Linked DNA regions of Homo sapiens. The protein of the gene in region 2 interacts with the protein of the main gene of each other region in a biochemical or structural test. Each region holds a gene or a part of one and is shown on either strand. Other genes may lie near its edges.

Region 1 (5,887 bases), on a different chromosome or scaffold from region 2:
TTCCCCTTTTGTTTCCCAGGACCTGGGAGAGTTCAGCCGGGTGGTCCAAGGCTGCCCGAGGCCATGGGAGGACCTTCGGAACCCCCCATGCTACTCCTGGGTCAAAGGGGGTTCTCTGCTGGGCAGTGTGGAGGCGACCACTCTAACCCCTACCCCTGCATTGAGTGAAGAGGTGGGGTCAGCCTCAGGTTCTCTCCGGACCCCCAGCGGAGCCCACCCGTTCACTTCGTTTTACTCAGTGGGGCTCCCCGGGAGGGGCAGGGAGAGTCTGGTGTGGCCTTGAGAACCGAGTGTGTGACCAGGACCCGGCAGCAGGCACCACGCCCACCACCCTCGAGCCTGGCCTCCTCGGCCTACATTTGGGTGCGCCCCACGGAGCTCTGTCTACACCTTAGGAGCGAGTGGGAGCCCCTCTCTGTGATGAGAGCGTCGCAACCCTGCCCTGACCTTTGCAGCCCCAGCACTGCAGGGCGCCACTCCCTCCCCGTCTCCAGACCCGCACTCCTACACAGCCCGGACTCTAGGAAAACAATCCTTTTATTGAACATACCCAAGAACGGGGGTGGGAAGGCAGCAGGAGGGGTCAGGGCGGAGGGGCCTCGGCCTGGAGAGGGGAGACTGGCCGCAGCCGGGACTCACTGGCACGGGTCCCTGAGGACCCCTCGCTCGGCGGCCGCGCTGCCCAGAATGAAGCCCACGGCCAGGGACACTGTCTGGTCGAAGGCGCCGCGCAGCTGCTCCACGTGCTGGTTCAAGGTCAGCAGCTGGTCGCGCAGCGGGCCCAGGATGTTCGCGATGTCGCCCAGGTGCCCCAGGGTCTGCAGCAGGGCGGTGTTCAGCGACGGGGGCGCGGCCGGAGGGGGCGCGCAGTCCTCGGGGCGGCCGGGCGGCGAGTCGGGGTCTTCGCGGGCCGGGGGTGGCGGCGGGGACCCGGGGCCGCGGACGGGCGCGCGGTCCTCGGGGATGCAGGTGGCGAGGGCGGTCGGGGCGGGAGCTGGCGGGGAGCCGGGGGCGGGGGAGGCGTCCGCAGACTTCGGTGGGGACGGGCTGAAGCGGAGCGTCCAGGTGGGGTCCGCGTCGCGGTCGCGGGCGGTGGGCAGCGGGGTGGCGTCTGGGAACGCGGAGCAGGCGGTCGGGCGGATTTTCGCGGGGCGCGCCCGCCCCTCCCCCGCAGCCCTCGGCAGCCCCCGGTTCCTCCGCAGTCCTCGGCCCCACCTGGCCCCCCAGTCCCCCGCCTACCTGGTTCGCTGGGAGCCGGCGCGTGCGCGTTGGGGACCGGGCGGCGGGCGCGCTGGGGGCGCCCGGACCCCGGGGAGCGGCGGCGAGGCCGTTTGCGCCCGTTGTCGCCCAGCAGCCCCATGAGCTTCCGGATCTGCTCGTCGAAGGGCCCGGGCGGCTGGCCGTGCGCCTCGCGAAACTTGTCTTTAAGGAACTTGTAGCGGCGGCGGCACTGCGCGGGGGTGCGGCGCACCTGCTGCTGGGCCAGCGCGGCCGACACGCGGCGGTAGGTGGGCAGGGCCTGGCGGCGGTCCAGGAGCAGCGCGCGCCACACGGCCGGTTGCAGCAGCGTCCCCAGCAGCAGCTCCGTCTCCCGGGCGCTCCAGGGCGTGCGCTGCGCCGAGCCCGGGGACACCGGCAACCCGAGTTCCCCCAGCGCGCTGGGCGAGGCGGGCCTCCGGGGCGGGGTCCCCGGGGCGTCTCCGGGTGTCCGCGGCTCGGGGTCGGGGCTGGCGGGCGAGGGCGGCGCGGGGGGCGCGAGCGGGGGCGGCCTGCGGGGCCGGAGCAGCATCCCGGGGCTGGGGCGCGGCGCGCGAGGATGGGGAGAGGGCCAGACGCCGCCCGGGCCGCCCACACGCGTTCTGAGCATCCCGCGCCGCCGTCCCTCCGTCCCAGCCGGGTCTACGCGACCCTCCCACCATCCCCGCCCCGCCCCGCGCGCCCCGCCCCGCCCGCCGGGTCCTAAGGGGTCGGTCCTGGCGCTGCGGCCGGGAAGACGCAGAGCAAAGACTGGCTTCGGTTGGAAACGGAGGGTCCTCAGGAGTTCTGTTCTTAGACCCGTTCAACGGAGGTGCCGCGATGCCTAAGCCCCGGCGGCTCCGCTCGTTTTTAGCCTGTGCCGAGCCTACCCCCGCCCCCGTCGAGGTGTGTGCGGAGCCCCTCCCGCTCCGGAAGGCGCTGGCGCCCCCTTGTCCGGCCCCCAGTGCTGCCCCCGCCCCCGCCGCCCCCGCCCGGGCTCAGCACCTGCACGCGAGGGGTCCGGAGGACCGACCCGGGTCCCAGGGGGAGTCGCCAGGCCAGGGGATGGGTCCGAGGAGAAGCCACGCCAGCCGCGGGAATGGGTGTCGGAATTCACGCGCTCGCAGAAGTAGCTTTTAAAATCTGAACTTCTTCCATCTGCAGCGCGTCTGCAGCCAGCATCCCTGGGAGGAGGAAATTCTCTTCCTATTAAATGCTCTTCCTCCTTGCCGCACGGCGCCGAGTCCTTCTGTCTCCTGGGTCTCCTCTGGGCCGTGGCAGCTTCTCGCGTCCTCGACACGGTTGAGGACGGGCCAGGTGTTTTGTTGAATGTTCCTCGACTTGGGTTTGCCTGGTGTCTTCCTGTGATCCGACTAGGGTGGTGGGTTTTAGGAAGGAAGGCGCAGGGGTGGAGTCTCGCCCCTCCTGTCTTGTGGCTCAGCACCGGTGAGGTCTGCTCCGTGCTGGGGTGCGGACTGTCTGCCACTCTTGCAGTCTTCAGGTATCGCCTTTCCATCCCTGCTCTGGTCACTGGAATCCGGCCCCTCAGCCCATCCCCAACTCATGGGGAGAGTAATTAGGCCCCACCTCCTGGAGGGGTGTCTGTATTTTCTGGGATTCTTCTGTAAGGTTTGTCTCTCTGCCTGTTGATTTATTTACTCAGTCATTTATTTCTACAGTGTGGGCTCGTGTATATTTATTTTATCCTTTAGGTCATAACCCGATGCTGTTATTATTTATTTGTTTTAAAAGTTCTGTTTGTTTTTATTATTTTTTACAAATGGGGTCTCTTTCTGTCACTCAGGCTGGAGTGCAGTGGCCTGATCACAGCTCACTGTAGCCTTGAACTCTTGGGCCCAAGTGATCCTCCAGCCTCAGCTTCCTTGGTAGCTGGGACTACATGTGTGCACCACCACACGCACCTAGTTTTTTTTTTTTTTTTTTACTTTTTGTAGGGACAGGGTCTTGCTATGTTGCCTAGGCTCGTCTTGAACTCCTGGGCTCAAGTGATCCTCCTGCCTGGGCCTCCCAATGTGCTGAGATTACAGGAGTGAGCCCCTGTGCCGGGCTTTTATTTGTATTTTTGCGCATATCGTTCCTGCTTTGGCCATTGAAAGTCTTCTCACCTCCTCCTCTCTTCCTTGTCCTTTTGAAACCCCCTCCCAGCTCCCTGGCAATACAGGATGCTCCTGCCTCATCTGGTCCTTTGCCGACCCTGGTCCTAGAATCAGCTTTTCAGACACTTCTCAAGAAATCTGTGGTTCCTGGCCAGGCACTCATACACGGGGCTCACACCTGTATTCCTAGCACTTTGGGAGGCTGAGGTGGGCAGATCTCCTGAGGCCAGGAGTTTGAGACTGACCTGGGCAATATAGTGAGACCCCCATCTCTGCAAAAAAATAAAAAATAGCCGAGTGTAGTAGCAGGTGCCTGTAGTTCCAGCTACTTGGGAGGCTGAGGCGGGAGGATGTCCTTTTGCTCAGGAGGTTAAGCCTGCAGTGTACCGTGATGACCTGACTGCACTCCTGCCTGGGTGACAGGGCAAGACTCTGTCTTAAAAAGAAAAGGGGGGCGTGCAGGCGTGGTGGCTGTAATCCCAGCACTTTGGGAGGCTGAGGCAGGCGGATCACCTGAGGTCAGGAGTCTGAGACCAGCCTGGCCAACATGGTGAAACCCCATCTCTACTAAAAATACAAAAATTAGCGAGGCGTTGGATGTGCACCTGTAATCCCAGCTTCTAGGGAGGCTGAGGCAGGAGAATTGCTTGAACCTGGGAGGTGGATCTAAAAAAAAAAAAAAGGCTGGGCGCGTGGCTCAAGCCTGTTGACACCCAGCACTTTGGGGGGCCGAGGCGGGCGGATCACGAGGTCAGGAGATTGAGACCATCCTGGCTAACACAGTGAAACCCGTCTCTACTAAAAATACAAAAAATTAGCTGGGTGTCGTGGCATGTGTCTGTAGTCCCAGCTACTCAGGAGGCTGAGGCAGGAGAATCGCTTGAACCCAAGAGGTGGAGGTTGCAGTGAGCCAAGATCGCACCACTGCATTCCAGCCTAGGTGACGGAGTGAGACTCTGTCTCAAAAAAAAAAAAAAGATTTTTAATAACTGAGGGTTGGGGGTGCTGGGGGCATCTGATGGGTGGAGATCAGAGATGATGGTGCACAGGACGCCAGCGCAGACTGTCTAGCCCACAGTGGCACTGCAGTGCACAGCACAGCCTGCCTTGAACCCGTCTGGGACAGAGCCGGGGAGTGGATGGCGGCGTGGGGGACAGAGCCGGGGAGTGGATGGCGGCGTGGGGGACAGAGCCGGGGAGTGGATGGCGGCGTGGGGGACAGAGCCGGGGAGTGGATGGCGCCGAGAAGCGAGGCTCATGAGGTTGCTGGCTGTCAGCTCTCTAAGAGAAAAGTCCTGTGCTCAGCGGAGCTGAATTTATTGGAGCCACTGCAGTGAGGGGTCCGGCCTGCATGGCGTGGGGGCGAGGACGCACACATGACCAGGACCAGGGCCCCCTGTCTCGGGCAGCTCCTGTCCAGCACAATTGGACTCCACCATCTTGTCTTCTCGGCTTCTCCTGGGCCTCCCTCCAGGCGGATAACCGCACCGTTCATCACGGGAACTTCCCGAAAGACCCATCAGCTCTTTTCCCAAAAGCATCCACAGTTTACAACCCCAAAACCATTGGAAGCCCTGGCTGTGAGCCCCTCCCTGAGTGGTGTCCACCAGTCTTACCCTGTGACAACCGTGAGAGTGTCCTTTCCCGGGCCACAAGCCCCACCTGCAGGAGCTCCCCGTCCTGGCCTCCTGCTCCACTGTGGTCAGAGTTACGGCGAGCTTGCACCGTGATGACGGGGGACCCAGCTCTGTCTTGCCCACAGGGCTGCCAGGTGGGAACTGGCTGGGTTGGGCAGAGTTTAGCGCAGATTGACCCAAGAACAGCCGTGGGTCTGTGCAAATAGCCTGTAAGAACTGATGGACAGACGCCCGTCCTGATCTTGGATGAAGACACTGCACATCCAGCATGAGGGACGTCCTTTTTGTCAATGGAGGGCGAGCCTGGATGTGCGCACACAGGAGCGTGGTTACGGGAGTCCGTTCTTTTAGGCTGTTTGCAGTCACAACCAGAAGCAAGTGTTTCCTGCCCCAGCCGGTGCGTTTGCTTGTTCCCACGGCCTGGGAGTGCTGGCGGTAGCTTTCCTCCTGGCGGGGCCTGAGTTGTGACACACGTCTGGCAGGCCCGGGCCTTTCTCTGCGGCATCAGAGGGCGTCGCTGTGGACCGGCAGATTCGTTTTCAGTCCTGGGTTGAGCACATCTCGCACCTGGAGTCCTTGTGAGCACCTGTAAGGGGCCTTCGTGCGGCCATGAAGGAAAACGTGTCGACCTGCAGAGGTCACCGTGGGGACCCGCAGAGTGACCACACAGCAGCAGCTGGTAGAAAGGACTTTATTCAGAAATTGGTGCCAGGACGGGAGGGAGCCATGCGGACAGTCGCGCTGAAGCCTGAGCCCAGTGCTGCCCCGGGGTCAGTCCTGACCGCTGGAATGTTGATTTGCACTGAGCACTGTCTGTTAGATACAAAATCTGAAAATGCGGGCGTGGGTCAGCAAAACATAATCCATATAAAAGCCTAAAAAAAAGTGAACTGCATT
Region 2 (7,027 bases):
ATGGTAGCTTTATTCACAATAGCTAAACACTAGAAACCATTAAAGTGTCCATGAGCAGGAGAATGGACAAAGAAATTGTGGTATATTCACACAATGGAATACCACTCAGCAATAAAAAGAAGCAAACTGTGATCACTCAACAACATGGATAAATCTGAGACATGCTGAGCTGGACATAAGAGTATAAAGTGGCTATTTATATGAAATTCTATAACTAATCTATGGTTACAAACATCAGAATAGATGGAGTGGACTGATCGGAAAGAGAGAAACTTTTATTCTTTTTAATTTAATTTCCTGATGACCTAAAAGAAACAGTTATTCAGGTTAAGTGTAAAGTTTAACAGTTTCTAAAAATATGGCCTACTCTTGTAAATAAAGGTATTTCTTAAAACTGGATTTGTTCCTTTTGAATTAATTTATAGAAAAAAGTCCAATGAATATGTAAAAATACTTTTAGATGCAGTACACAATAACAGGATCTCCTTTTAATATCTATATCTGCTCTATTCAGTTCCCACTGCATGGTAAATTAAATTGAATTTTTCATCAATCAGTATACTAAAATAGGAAGTGCAAAAAATGCCCCTGGTGAAGCTCTTCTGCTATCAAGTGAAGAAGATTCATCTTAGTATTTCCAAAGCTCTGACCTGAACATACTATGATGTGAAAAATTTCCTCCTTGGGTTTTTAGGGTCTTCTCTAACAATCAATAACCACCTAATTTTTATACTCTTCAACCAACTGCTGTTCATTCAGATAATATGTAAGTTTTATTGCTAAAACAGGGTGTCCTGTGCAAATTTCTGACTGATTGTCTGCACTAATGGAGAATAGCAGTAAAAATTTTTCAGGCCGGGTGTGGTGGCTCACGCCTGTAATCCCAACACTTTGGGAGGCTGGGGAGGGGGGATCACGAGGTCAGGAGTTCGAGACCAGTCTGACCAACATGGTGAAAACCCGTCTCTACTAAAAATACAAAAATTAGCCAGGCATGGTGGTGCACACCTGTAATCCCAGCTACTCAGGAGGCTGAGGCAGGAGAATTGCTTGAACCCAGGAGGCGGAGGTTGCAGTGAGCTGAGATTGTGCCACTGTACTCCAGCCTGGGTGAGAGAGCGAGACTCCATCTCAAAAAATAAATAAATAAATAAATTCAGCTCTGCAATATGTTTTAGCATGTAAAAATTTGTATTTAGTATAGTGCCTAGCAAATAACTGAAGCAAATAGAAGGTGTCTAATAACTACTAATCTATTGATTTCCTAAGGATACATTAATTAATTGCTGTTGTTAGCCCTATTATGATATAGAACGTTAACATCTACCCAATTAATCGATGTTATTAATTAACTGACATTATTGTATTATAACACAGCAAGGAGAATTACACTGATTTTTATTTTATTTTATTTTATTTTTGAGATGGAGTTTCACTCTGTCACCCAGGCTGGAGTGCAATAGTGCGATGCTGGCTCACTGCAACCTCGGCCTCCCGGGTTCAAGCAAATTCTTGTGCCTCAGCCACCCGAGTAGCTAGGATTACAGGCATGCACCACCACGCTCGGCTAATTTTTGTATTTTTAGTAGAGATGGGGTTTCACCATGTTGGCCAGGTTGCTCTCGAACTCCTGACCTTAGGTGATCTGCTCACCTCAGCCTCCCAAAGTGCTTGGGATTACAGGTGTGAGCCACTGCGCCCGGCCCTGATTTTCTTTAAAAATAGAATCGTCAGATCTTCTACTAAGAAAATTAGAACGTTTATAGGATTTAGGGTTAAGAAGTACCCCAGAAACCAAAGCTTAATCTTTTTATTTTACAGATGAGGAAATGCAATCTCAGGAAAGTTACAGTTGCTTAATTAAAGGTAGTGAATAGTGGAGTTAGGATTAAAATTAAAATTAAAATACACATCTAAACATTAATTTAATAGCATCCAAACAGCACAACAGAAAAAAATGGTTTTATCATGTTTGCTAACTTGTACACTATTTCAGAATTCTTTTTAATACTGTTAAAACCACTCATCATTATTAGCAGCACTGCCTTCAGATGATCACATCTAGTTTCAGATGTAATACTCCTATTTTCCACTAGGAGGAGAAAAAGCCACAAGAAAAAGCCAGACAAACAACAAGTGACAAGAAACAGAACTTCTAATCTGCCACTAATTTTAAAGTATCACTAACTACTCACTATGCTAAAGGAAGATTTCTTTTTTCAAATTTTGTGGTTTATCTATAGTATAAAACAGTCCGTAACTTTATAAAAATGTGATCTAAATTGTGCATTTGAAGCAGGCTTTAGTGAAAACATTAATTCAAAACAGCCTCAAGCAATGTACAGAACAAATAAAATCTGGCTTACCATTTTTGCTTCTGACTGTACTGGTTGGGGAGAGGAAGGACCTGGGATTCCTGGAACACTAGGCACCATGGTGACTGGTCGAACGAGCTATGCATGACATAAGGAAAAATAATTGCTAGAGAATATATTCAAAATGAGATTTGTACTTTACTGCTGTTGTAATAATTTGAGACTTTAAGAATCAGAACATTGTAAATTTATCACCAGCTGATTTTATCTCTATACCAAATCCTTATTTGGTCTTATATCCTGACTTATCCTTCAAAAGTTGTCAATTTCTGAGACGTGTGCTTTCCTAATTTTCAGTTTCTACAATTTCTTTCTTAATGGTCCCTGTTAGAAATTCATAATATTCAAAGTGATTAATGCAAAAATTCTCAAAGATCTGTCAAACTTCCATTTTGAATATGAAAGGAAGAATGTCAAAACTTGTGACACTTAGGCATAAAAAATAATTTCAACAATGAATTTTGCTTTTCTAAAAATATATACAATGAATTTTCTTATACATACCACATAATAACAAATAACACACTGTAATAATTTCTGAAATAATCTGTAACAGGTTTTACCATTTTGGTTTTTTCCTTTTTTTTCTTAAACCTAACACTGAGTGAACACAGTTACTGTATAAATAAAGCATATCTTTTCTTTCATTTCCGGTTGCTTTCATCACTAGGTACATGTAACAGGATAATCAGAATCTCAAAAACAAGGCAAGAATGTTTCCCTCCTCAAAAAAATATTCTCAGTAAAGAGGAAGCAGATACCTTATATCTGAGTCCTTACAAAGTCTCTCAAATAATGCATTTTGAACAAAGTTCTTTTTAAAGAAGGCACATTATCTTGAAATTACGTCAATCAATGCTAATTTTGGATAGTTTGAAAGATCACGTGGAAGAATTAGTTAATTAAAAAAAGATATAAATATCAAACATTAATCCTAGTAATATTCTTGGGGGTAATCTCACCGAAAGTGTTGGAATGTTACTATAAGTAAGCTTTTAAAAATAAGTTTTATTTTTTATTATTTTTGAGACAAGGTCTTACTTTGTTGCCCAGCCTGGAATGCAGTGGTGCAATCTCGGCTAACTACAGTCTCAACCTCCAGGCTCAAGTGATCCTCCCACCTCAGCCTTCTGAGTAGCTGAGACTACAGGTGCTTCCATCACAACTGGCTAATTTGTGTTTATTTTTTGTAGAGATGGGGTTTTGCCATGTTGCCCAGCCTGGTCTTGAACTCCTGGACTTAGGCAAGCCACCCACCCTGGTCTCCCAAAGTGCTGGGATTACAGGCATGAGCCACTGCACTTGGCCTAAAAATAATTTTTAAAAGCTACACTGTAAATGATTACACTGTACTGATCAGTAACAAGCATCTTAGAAGGTAAAAGAAAAAACTATCTTTTTATTACATAAATAAGTACCTAATGCTTGGTGTAAGATTTCCAGGGAGAGAATAATAGAGAGATTCATAAAGTAATATCGTAAATGATTTAGATGAAAAAGAAAATACTGTGTTCTGGAAACTGTGCTAGATGTCTCAAAAAGTGGTTCTCAGGATGAAAATTTGAATGTCAAAGACATAACTGAAGAGTTTGTTTGAATAAAACTGTTTTATGTAATGTAAGTAAGAAAAAAGCAATTTTCTAACACACATTATTCCAAACAATGTGTTTTTAAATGTTCATTAAACTATTACTTTTTTTTTTTTTTTGACTTGGGGTCTTGCCCTGTCATCCAGGCAGGATCCATAGCTCACTGCAGTCTCAAACGCCTGGGCTCACACAATCCTCCTACCTCAGCCGCCCAATACGCTGGGATTACAACAGGCATGAGTTGCCATGCCTGGCCAAACTATTAAATATCATAAGTAGATAGTTAACTATTTTGTCTACGTCTTTCAAAATTTATATATTTAACACACCCCTCAAAAAACTTTTTTGCGGGGTCTTTTCACAGGGAAAGTGAAAGATTATTTTTCTAGAACATTTACATTTTAACATGCTGGGCTATCAAAGATTCTACAAACCCTACTTGACCACAAAAATTCAGAGTGTGTCTTTATAAACAATTTCCATACTAATAGAAATACCACAGAGTTACCTGACAAGTATTCTAGTACAAATATCTTTCTAAAATTTGAAATCTGTGTTAATATTTGAATGCTACAAGTCCAGTCAAATTGATATGGGTTGAATAAGAAGATCTCAGTATAAAAAAAAAATTAAGGTTTTGGGGAGAAGAGAAAAAATAGCTATACCTTGAATGGTATATGCTATTACAATGATAACAAATAAATACTATCAACTGCTAATCAATATTATGTTAAATTCAATTTCATAAGCCAGTCAAGCAGCCAACTTTATTTTCTGACTACAAAGATCAGTTTTGCGATAGAGATTTAAATAGTCTAACTTTCTTACTGGGACTGCAGCTGGAACATGCACATTAGAACTTGTAATTGATGCAGGAATAGCAACAGGCATGGTTTGTCCATTAGGAAGATGTAACAGAAGAGGAAATGGGCCTGGTACAGGGCTAAGAAAAACAAAAGAAGAGAAATTTTAAAAAAGAGATTCATACCAACTGTCTCTTAAAAATACAATAGTATTTTTACTCCTATAATCATATCATTTAAAAATACATTTTCTAACCACAGCAAAGCAAATAGCAAAATTTAATTATTTTTAATTGCATCTTAAATGCATAACCTGTGTAGCAGTATTGAAAAGAAGAGAAAAGTTATGGATTTACTTAGGACAATCTCCAATTTGTAAAATGAGAAAAACTGTCATCAGAGAGCTCTTGGGAGCTACCAGTAAGAACTGAAAGAAATGGAATCTGGTGATGCAGTAATTTTATATTTTGTGTGAAATAGCATGAAAATAAGACTATCTTAAATTCACATTCTATATTTGTTTTTAGTTGTATTTATCTCCCACTCTGTTAGTTAATATTTATATTAAAGAAGACTACGCAAGTACTTTTTCCAAAATTCGAAGCATGCACACACATACAAAACTAAGATCTTAGTTTGAATAATCAAATGTCTTAGGAAAAATCATTACAAAACAAACTTAATTCATGTATATGTTCAATGATTGGCCTGAATCACTTACACAATTGGCCTGTTAGAGGATGGTGCCTGGGTGATTACAGTACTTGAGGTTGGTGAAGGTACTGCCTGCTGAATAATTACACTTGAGTCAGAACTTGTAAGCAGCACATTGGGAACCTGTAATGATGCTGGACGAACAATAGCTGATGTGGGCTGTGCAGTTTGTGCCAATGGTACTTCCTATTTAACAATGAGATAAAAAAGGGTGGCATTTAAAAATACAAATCATGTACCTTAGTGAACAGAATGTAACACACTTCTAAAAGCATCTACAGAATAATAACTGCTAAAAGCAAATTAATATCTCAAATTAATTAAAAGAACATTTTAGAAGAGCTGTAAAGATTCAAATGCAATGTTCAATTAATATTTTAATTTTAAAAAGACTCGTTTTTTTTTTTTCCAGTACAACTTGTTCTCCTATCAATCCAGAAATAAGTTAGACTGGGCAACTTGGCTATGATACCAAGAGAATTTTAATAAAAAATAAAAATATAATCCATTCTCAGAGAATCACAGAACTTAAAATCCAGAAGGGACTGTTTAGTCCCCCTCCCTCATTATACTGTATGAAGAGGAAACAGGTCCAGTGAGACTGTGTTATGGCTGATACAATTAAGTAACAGAAATAAGAACTTTTAGAGCAATACAAATAATTGTTAATTCCAGTTAGCTACCTCTTCTATATCAATAATTTCTTCATATCAAAAGGCCACGTAATACTGATATCTTGAATGTAAAATAAATAATTACCGGAGTGAACTCTTTCAAGTCAGGAAAACAGAATTTGTCAGCCAAGACCTTAAAGATGGTATTTCCTCTGGTTTTACAAATTATAGAACAAAAAGTTTTAAAAGATTTTACCCAGAACTCCTTAAATAGTCAGTGTAAAAATTGGGTCTATGGTGTTTTATGAATTGGCCTGTATGCTGCCACTTATCATCAAAATCTTATTAAGCTACATAGGAAGAAGGATAAAGTAGTAGTATTGTAACTTCATTTATTCAGTAAGTTGAGAACTTATGCTCCCAAGGACTAGCTCTCAAGGAAGAGACAATAAACAAGTAAAACAAGTAAGAAAATTTCAGATTGTAGTAAATGTTAAGTGTTACAGAATAATACGTGCAATGTAACAAAGGATGAAAGATTAGCTGAAGGTAAGGAAGAGTCAGTTAATTTAGACAGCATAGTAAGAATAGGTGAGCTTCTTTGCAAAAACAGCATTCGAACTGATGATAAAAGGATGAGGAGGAGAGCATTTCATTGTAGGGAGAAGGAAGCAATACCATATATGTCATGTCCTGAGGTAGGAAAAAGCTTTGAATATTTGATGAACACAATAGAGAGGCATGAGGTAAGGATAGATGCGTAGACAGGCCCAGATCAAAGAGGGCTTATGCCAAGGAGTGTGAATTATTTTAAATACAATGGTAGACCATTGAAAGATTTTAAGCAGGTGACATATTTAATGTATTAAAAGTCATCTTACAGAAAATGGATTGGAGGTAGAAGCAGGAAGACAAGTTAGAAGGTAACTGTT
Region 3 (7,027 bases), on a different chromosome or scaffold from region 2:
GGTTTCTACAATGTCCATTTATGGGTGACACATTTGGGGAAAGGATGGATTTAAGTTTGCAATTAGGTAGGACTCTGTCTTGCTATGCCCCAAGTGTACTGTGTTAGAATTTGTCTATCAATCCAGAATTAGTGCTTTTGAATTTTCTGGCAGATATACCAGGGTGGGGTGAAGATGCAAGATCAAGGCACTGAGAGGCTGCTCCTCCAAAGAGCTGGGATCTTTCAGAGGCTTTTTGGGTTTGTGCAGGTGCCAAGATTGCATAGGGTAGTGGATAGAGACATAAATCCCGGAGCTGGCTGCATCCATCACCACTGTTTACCAGTTGTGGGAGCTCAGGCAAGTTTCCTCAACTTCTGTGTCTTACTTCTCTCTTCTGTAAAATGGAGATATTAACCACATCTACCTACAGGATTGGTATAGGAAGTTAATGAATGAAAAGCACTTAGAATAGTACCTGGCATATGGTAAAGGCCATCTAGGTATTTGCTGACATTGCTGTTAGTGAAAGCCATCAACAAAGTGCTGGCACTATTGTTTCATTACAACGAAAGTAATTGTGTCAGTACAGGTGAATTATGTATAAGCCTTTTCTTTCCAAAACTTCCTTTAAGGTTGTTGTTATGTTGTTTTAAGAAAAAGATCCACTATCTCATTGTAATGTTAATGTTGAGGTACAAGGATAATTATACCACTATATCTTCTTGTTCAGATGGGGAAGTACTCTAATGTGTCCTAGGGATACAAATGAAACCACAGAATATCTGTTGTCAGGTAGGTACTTGAAAAGGGTTTTATATCATAAACTAAGAGCAGAGTCAGTCTCTGAGATGGTCCAGCACTAGTAGGGCACGTAGTCTTTCTAATGAGGTGGGTGGAGAGCCTGGACTTGGAACCAGAAGACCGAGTTGGTTTTGGTGCCTGGCTTTTAGCAGTGCGATCCTGGGCAAGCGGCTTAAGGCCTTGGGCTTGGTTTGCATGTCTGTAAAATGGGGATAGTAATTCCAGCTTACCTCAAAACACTATGAAGTCTGAATAAAAAATGAATGGGAAGAATTTTCACAACTGGTAATTTTTATAAGAATATTAAACATCAATATTGCAAGGGTCTGGAAGGTCTTTTTTCTCTACACACTCGTGCCCACCAACCCTATCCCTACTCCCTCATTCCCATTGCCCTTCTTGAGTCAAGCTCATTTAATTTAAGCTAAAAAATTTTGACTTCTGTTGACATAAAAATATACTTGAGGCCTAGAGGCTATTATAAAGGGAATATTTGGGATTGAGTTCAGGGACTAAATATGTATATACTGGGCATCTAAGGAAAGAAATGGGTATAGAAAGTAAAAGATGGCAGACAAAACATTTTACTAATTAGTTGGTCTGGGAGTGGTCTTTCTAACAGTAAAAGCAAACTGATATAATGTGGCCTAAGAAACTGTTTTAGAATTCAGCAAATCACAAAGTAGATGGTAGGAGTGGCCTTTATTCTCACACAGACCTAGACTCAAATCCTAGCTTTGCAAGTTACTCAGCCTCTCAGAGCTACGGTTTCCCTATCAGTAAAATGAGGCAATAACACCAGTATCCCAAGGTGATGAGGACTGAATAAATTGAGGTAGAAAACACTGGCATATAAGTGAAACTGATCTGTGCAAGGAAGCCTTACCAGGAATTTCCGTTTTTGCTTCCAGTGGCTGCCTTGGGCGTTGGTCGCCACATGGGCTTCGGTGACAGTTTTGATGAGCTCCCATTCCTCGTCTGTGGGCTCTGGCTTGTGCCCGATGGACTTCTGCAGCTCTTCCCGCCGTCTTTTCTCCCGGTTCTCCTCTATCAGCTTCCTCTTGGCCAGCCTCTTGCTGTCATCCAGCACCACTGGGAGGGGGAGAAAGATGAGACAAGGCACACAGATGCTCCCAAGATACACAGCAAGCTGCACTTCCTGGAGCCTCAGGAGTGGGACCACTGATGCACAGATGGCTTACTGGGTCCTTCGGGGTGGGTCACACTGGGACAGTTTCTCTCCTCACCAGCAAACTGCCATTGACTAGTCTTGTCCAACATGGTCTCTAGAGCCAAACTCCCCATGACCGGCCAGCTTTTCAAAACAAAGTCCCCAGAGAACCTAGACACTGCGCACTCCAACTCCACAGAAGGTGGTTCTAAAACAGAGTGAAGCAGAGAGGTAAAATCCATACTACCCACAAGATCACAGAGAAATCTGTCCAGCCAGTCATCCGAATTCACTCTCTGGGTTTCTGTCCTCCCCGCTTCCCCTAAAACGGCTCTTAGTAAAGAGAACTTCAGGTTAAAGAAACGTTATGGAATTAAAAAAAGAAACGTTATGGAGCAGTAAGTGGGAGGCTCGTGATCCCTTTTTTTAAGAGGAAAAAGGACCCCAACTCTTCATGGCTCCCTTAAGGGCTAATTGGAATGTGGCTGGGCCTCACCTGGGCCTCAAGGTACTCACTGTACATTATTCTCTACCTGGTCCACCCTCAAGGGTGGTTAAAGAGTCCAGGCTTTGGAATCTAGAAAGACTTGGGTTTGAATTCTGATATTATTACATTCTAGCTGTGTGACCTCTGGCAAGTTCCTTAGGTTCTCTGAGCTTTCATTTCTTCCTATACAAAATGGGCTCAATAATACCCACTTCACAGAGTATTCAATGTGATAATGCATTATAAGTGCTCAGTAAATGCAGTCCTGACTTCTATCATTTGGGTGAAAGGAAAATCAGAAGGGCAGGTAACAAGAAACCTATATTTCTGTGGTCAATTTCCAAAACCAAAACCGTTTCACTAGACTTGGTAACTATCAATGGAATGGAAAGGCTCAGGTTTTACATTGCAGAGTCATAGTATTTTAGAACTGGAAGGGAACTTAGACGTCATCTAGTCCTACTCTGTCTTTTCACAGAAAGAAGAAGAAATTGATCCAGAGAGGTCGTGACTTGCCTAAAGTCACAGAGCAAGTTAATGGCAGAGCCAAGGCAAGACCCAGGACTCCTGACTCCAGTTCTACGACATCACTGTCCTAGGGCCATTTCTTGATGAAGGTGTGACCTGGTAGGAAAAGAAAAAAAGCAGACATAGCAAGAGAAGGAGAACCAAGGTGCCTAGCTAGTCTCCCATTTAAATATTCTAATTTAAAGAGAATATTAAATTCCAGACCATTTAGATTTGATTGGATTGTCAAAGTCATGTGAGCGCTTACAAATGAGGAAAATATGAATGAGCCCTGTTAAGTCATTTTGGTTCAGTTACTAAAGGGAAAGGAGGAATGGTAATAATACCCTCAACCCCTTCCCAAATGCTTCCGGTGTGCCAGGGACTGTTGTATTTGATGAACATTATCTAATTTAATCTTGAAAACAACTCTACAAGGTAGGCAATGATTTCACAGAAGGAAAATCTCAGCTTAATTCCAAAGGTCACACAGCTAGTAAGTGACAGATCTGGGACTCGAACAGAAGTTTTTCTGATTAGAAAGCCTGAGCTCTTAGAATCCCTCACAAGCAAGTAAAGGGCACTCAAAATTTATTTCCATACAGTCTAGATTAACACTGAGTTTTTAAACCTCATAGACACTAGTATCTTAAACTTCTCAATAGAACACTGAAATAGATAATCAATAATAAGTTTGTCATAGTGGCATATCTAAGTATTTGGCTGTAAGTCAATCATATTCACATATCCCTATCAGGCATATTGTTGGCAAGGGCTAAAGGCCTTTAAGAGATAAAGATAAAGAAAATACTCAGCCAGAGGTGGGGATTAACCCAGGATTTCCAGCCTAACACTCTAACATAACCCTCTTCCTTTTTAAAGATTCTCCATTCCTTCTTCTTTAATGGGCAAACCAGAACATTTCACAGATTTTTTTTTCTCAGTGAAAGAACTCTATTTCTCACATAAAATGTGAGTCATGATTACTTCTTTCATCAGGAAAAATCCTCACTGTATTTTCTTTTTTCTTTCTTCATTTTTTATCTTTCTTTTTCTTTTTAATTTTTAACTAATAGTTGGAATCTCTCACTGATGTGCAAAAAATTTATGCCAGTAGAATCATTAATACTGATGCCTGGCAAAAGGGAGGCCACACATTCTGAATGACATGATTCTTATTTTTATGATTAGATTAATTAAAGTGACTGGTGTAAATCCCTCGCACAGTGTGGGGAGAAGAGACCCCAAGGGCTAATCTCGCCACCATATGCTGTAGCACTTTGAAAACTGGGTAGGACGACTTCAGCTCGGAATGTCTTTATTGCTAAAAATATAACAAACAACCAACTGCAGGATGACTCATGCAATAGCACTCAACTTTGCATTCTTCAGAAATTTCTGAACACGATGTTTTCTGCCAGCGCCCCATCTCCAAAAATGTCCATAAAATAAATTCCTGTCTTTGCTCTTGAAAAAATATTAGGACTAGTCCCTGAGGCTCTACCCCATGTGAACACTGTGTATAGAATGATACCTTATCAAGGTAAATGGACCAGACCTCTCATTTGTAATCTCTGTCTCAAACAGAGTGTTGCTAACAACTAGGCCTGCAAATGTGATAGGGATAATTTAACTGCATTTCCTCCTCCATCATCCATACTTTGACAGTTAGGAGGTGGTATGACAGGGTAGGATGGAACCCACCCAGCAATGGCTCCCACCTCCCTTTCAGGGCAAGCCTGGATGTGGGGAGTGAGGGGTGTATGCGAAAGTAAGGTATTCCCTTCTCTGTCTTCTTGGGTTCCTGCCTTCTTTTCTGCCCAGTCGATCTCCTTGAACCAAACTGTTTCCTAATCAACATTCCTTGAATATGAAGCAAGTGAAGATCTACTTACAATCTGTTGCCATGCCAACATAGATGCATTTCTTAAAGCGACATTCCTGGCACTGATTTCGCGTGACTTTGTCTATGACACATTTTCCTTCATATTTACAGGAATAGGATGGATGGAGATTTTTCTGAATGGTTCTTCTAAAGAAACCCTATATGAAAAACAAAGACCCAAGACAACAGTTTCATATTTTCTTGAAATCAGTGATTCTGGAATTTTGTGTCCATATAACTATGAGATGAATCGTTTTGGACCTTAACCTGTTTCTAGGCCTCTAGCTCCACATATTCAAATATAAGACAGTTGGCCCAGAAGGATCTAGAGAGTTCTAAATCTGAGCTGATGATGCCATAGGACTACAGAGTCAACACCTTTTTTTTTGGTCTTTATTCAAGGAAAAGAGGCTAGTAGGAACATCTAGCGCTTGTTTTTATTTTTTCTAAATATTGAATATATAAGTAAATTATACTGTTCTATTTCATATACTGACATAATTGTGTTGCTAAATTAAGCTATGAGGAGTTTTGCTACTTTATACTGAGTAATAAGAGAGCTCCAAGACCAAGAAGAAAGTGAAAAAAATGAAAAGACATGGATACTTGCAATACTTTATTAATTAAAAATCTAATAATTTAGTAATTAAACAGATGTACTAGCTGGCTTCCTGGATTTAGTTTAATACTTGTTTTTGAATCTTGAGACAGCCATGATCAGCTCACTTAGCCTTTCAAACAATAGGACTCAGGGAGTAGAACGCTCCAGGTTTTCTACCAAGTTTTTCCCCATAGCTCATTGCATTGAGGTTTTCCTTTTATAACACTCTTTCTTTGGTATCTGTAGACATACACCTACAGGTTCAATGATTCTTCCTTTCTTAAGGCATGAGAGAGCACCTCTGTAGCATCTGGGGACACTGTTTAGTTCTAGGTTTGGGTGACTTAGGTAATATTCTCAAGAATGTGCAATACTAGAATTTTTCTGGACGTGATCCTCAAGTTGAGGCAACTGTCATCTGTATTGTAGAAGTTAATAACAGCAGTGAGCACTTATTGTGAGGGCACATTGCTAAGTGCTGTAGAAACATTCAATATCCTTCTATCTTCCCTACAATCATGTAAAGGAGGTGCTCTAAATATTTCCATGGTAGGGATTAAAAAAGTAAACCTCAGACAGGTTAAATCGCTTGCCCAAATCACATGGTAAGTACATGTGGGAACTTCAGGTAGGATGGAAACCACCCAGCAATGACCCCCACCTCCCTTGCAACCCAGGAGCGGCACTCCACATCTTACTTGCTTAACTGCTTATATGATGTATAATGAAGTAAATTTTACTGTATTACTTGAATGTTTTAGATCAACAGATTATAAACAGTCCTGCCCCAGCCACTTAAAAAGTTCATTTTAACTGTTGGTAGGATAACAAGGCAAAATGAGTGTTTTAAAATGTAAGAAATTAAAAAAAATTTTTTTTGAGACAGAGTCTCGCTCTGTCACCTAGGCTGGGGTGCAGTGGTGCGATCTTGGCTCACTACAACCTCCACCTCCAGGGTGCAAGTGATTCTCATATCTTAGCATCCAGAGTAGCTGGGATTACAGGCGTGTGCTACCACACCTGGCTAATTTTTGTATTTTTAGTAGAGACGGGGTTTTGCCATGTTGGCCAGGCTGGTCTCGAACTCCTGGCCTTCAGTGATCCGTCCTCCTTGGCCTCCCAAAGTGCTGGGATTATAGGCGTGAGCCACCACGCCTGGCTAATTTTTGTATTTTTAGTAGAGATGCGTTTTTGCCATATTGGCCAGGCTGGTCTCCAACACCTGGCCTCAAGTGATCCGTCTGCCTCCGCCTCCCAAAGTGCTGGGATTACAGGCATGAGCCACTGTTCCTGGTGGCAAAACAAGTTTTGATGGATGTCTTCTGCTAAGGCCTAAAGGGGTCCTCTAACTTTGCTAGATAAATGGTGGGAAATATCAGTTGATCTAGATTCAGCCCAAATTTTTATGATCCCGGTTAATGTTCTTTGGCTTTGATTATATACGTATACCCTATTGCATATTCCTCCTTCAGACACAAAAGCTCTTTCTTATTATGAAAATGCCCGAGGTAGGATTTTATATTGGGCAAAGCAGAATAAAATAGAAAAACATCAGGAATAACTGAGACTAACAGACTTGATTTTGGGGCGTAT

What was found. Proteins that work in one complex are often made in the same cells at the same time.
Region 1: the proteins of ATF2 (region 2) and UTF1 form a complex in vitro, tested with the Homo sapiens proteins (one study listed by BioGRID).
Region 3: the proteins of ATF2 (region 2) and THRB form a complex in vitro, tested with the Homo sapiens proteins (one study listed by BioGRID and IntAct).

What each region holds. Positions count from the first base shown.
Region 1 is NC_000010.11:133,226,191-133,232,077, reverse strand, and holds UTF1 (undifferentiated embryonic cell transcription factor 1), read right to left. Parts: upstream 1,862-5,887; 5' UTR 1,790-1,861; coding exon 1,240-1,789; intron 1,112-1,239; coding exon 636-1,111; 3' UTR 520-635; downstream 1-519.
Region 2 is NC_000002.12:175,109,202-175,116,228, forward strand, and holds part of ATF2 (cyclic AMP-dependent transcription factor ATF-2), read right to left. Parts: intron 5,668-7,027; coding exon 5,489-5,667; coding exon of another isoform or gene 5,485-5,488; exon of another isoform or gene 5,042-5,484; intron 4,908-5,041; coding exon 4,793-4,907; intron 2,454-4,792; coding exon 2,367-2,453; intron 1-2,366. UniProt on the Homo sapiens protein: Transcriptional activator which regulates the transcription of various genes, including those involved in anti-apoptosis, cell growth, and DNA damage response.
Region 3 is NC_000003.12:24,141,832-24,148,858, forward strand, and holds part of THRB (thyroid hormone receptor beta), read right to left. Parts: intron 4,992-7,027; coding exon 4,844-4,991; intron 1,876-4,843; coding exon 1,670-1,875; intron 1-1,669.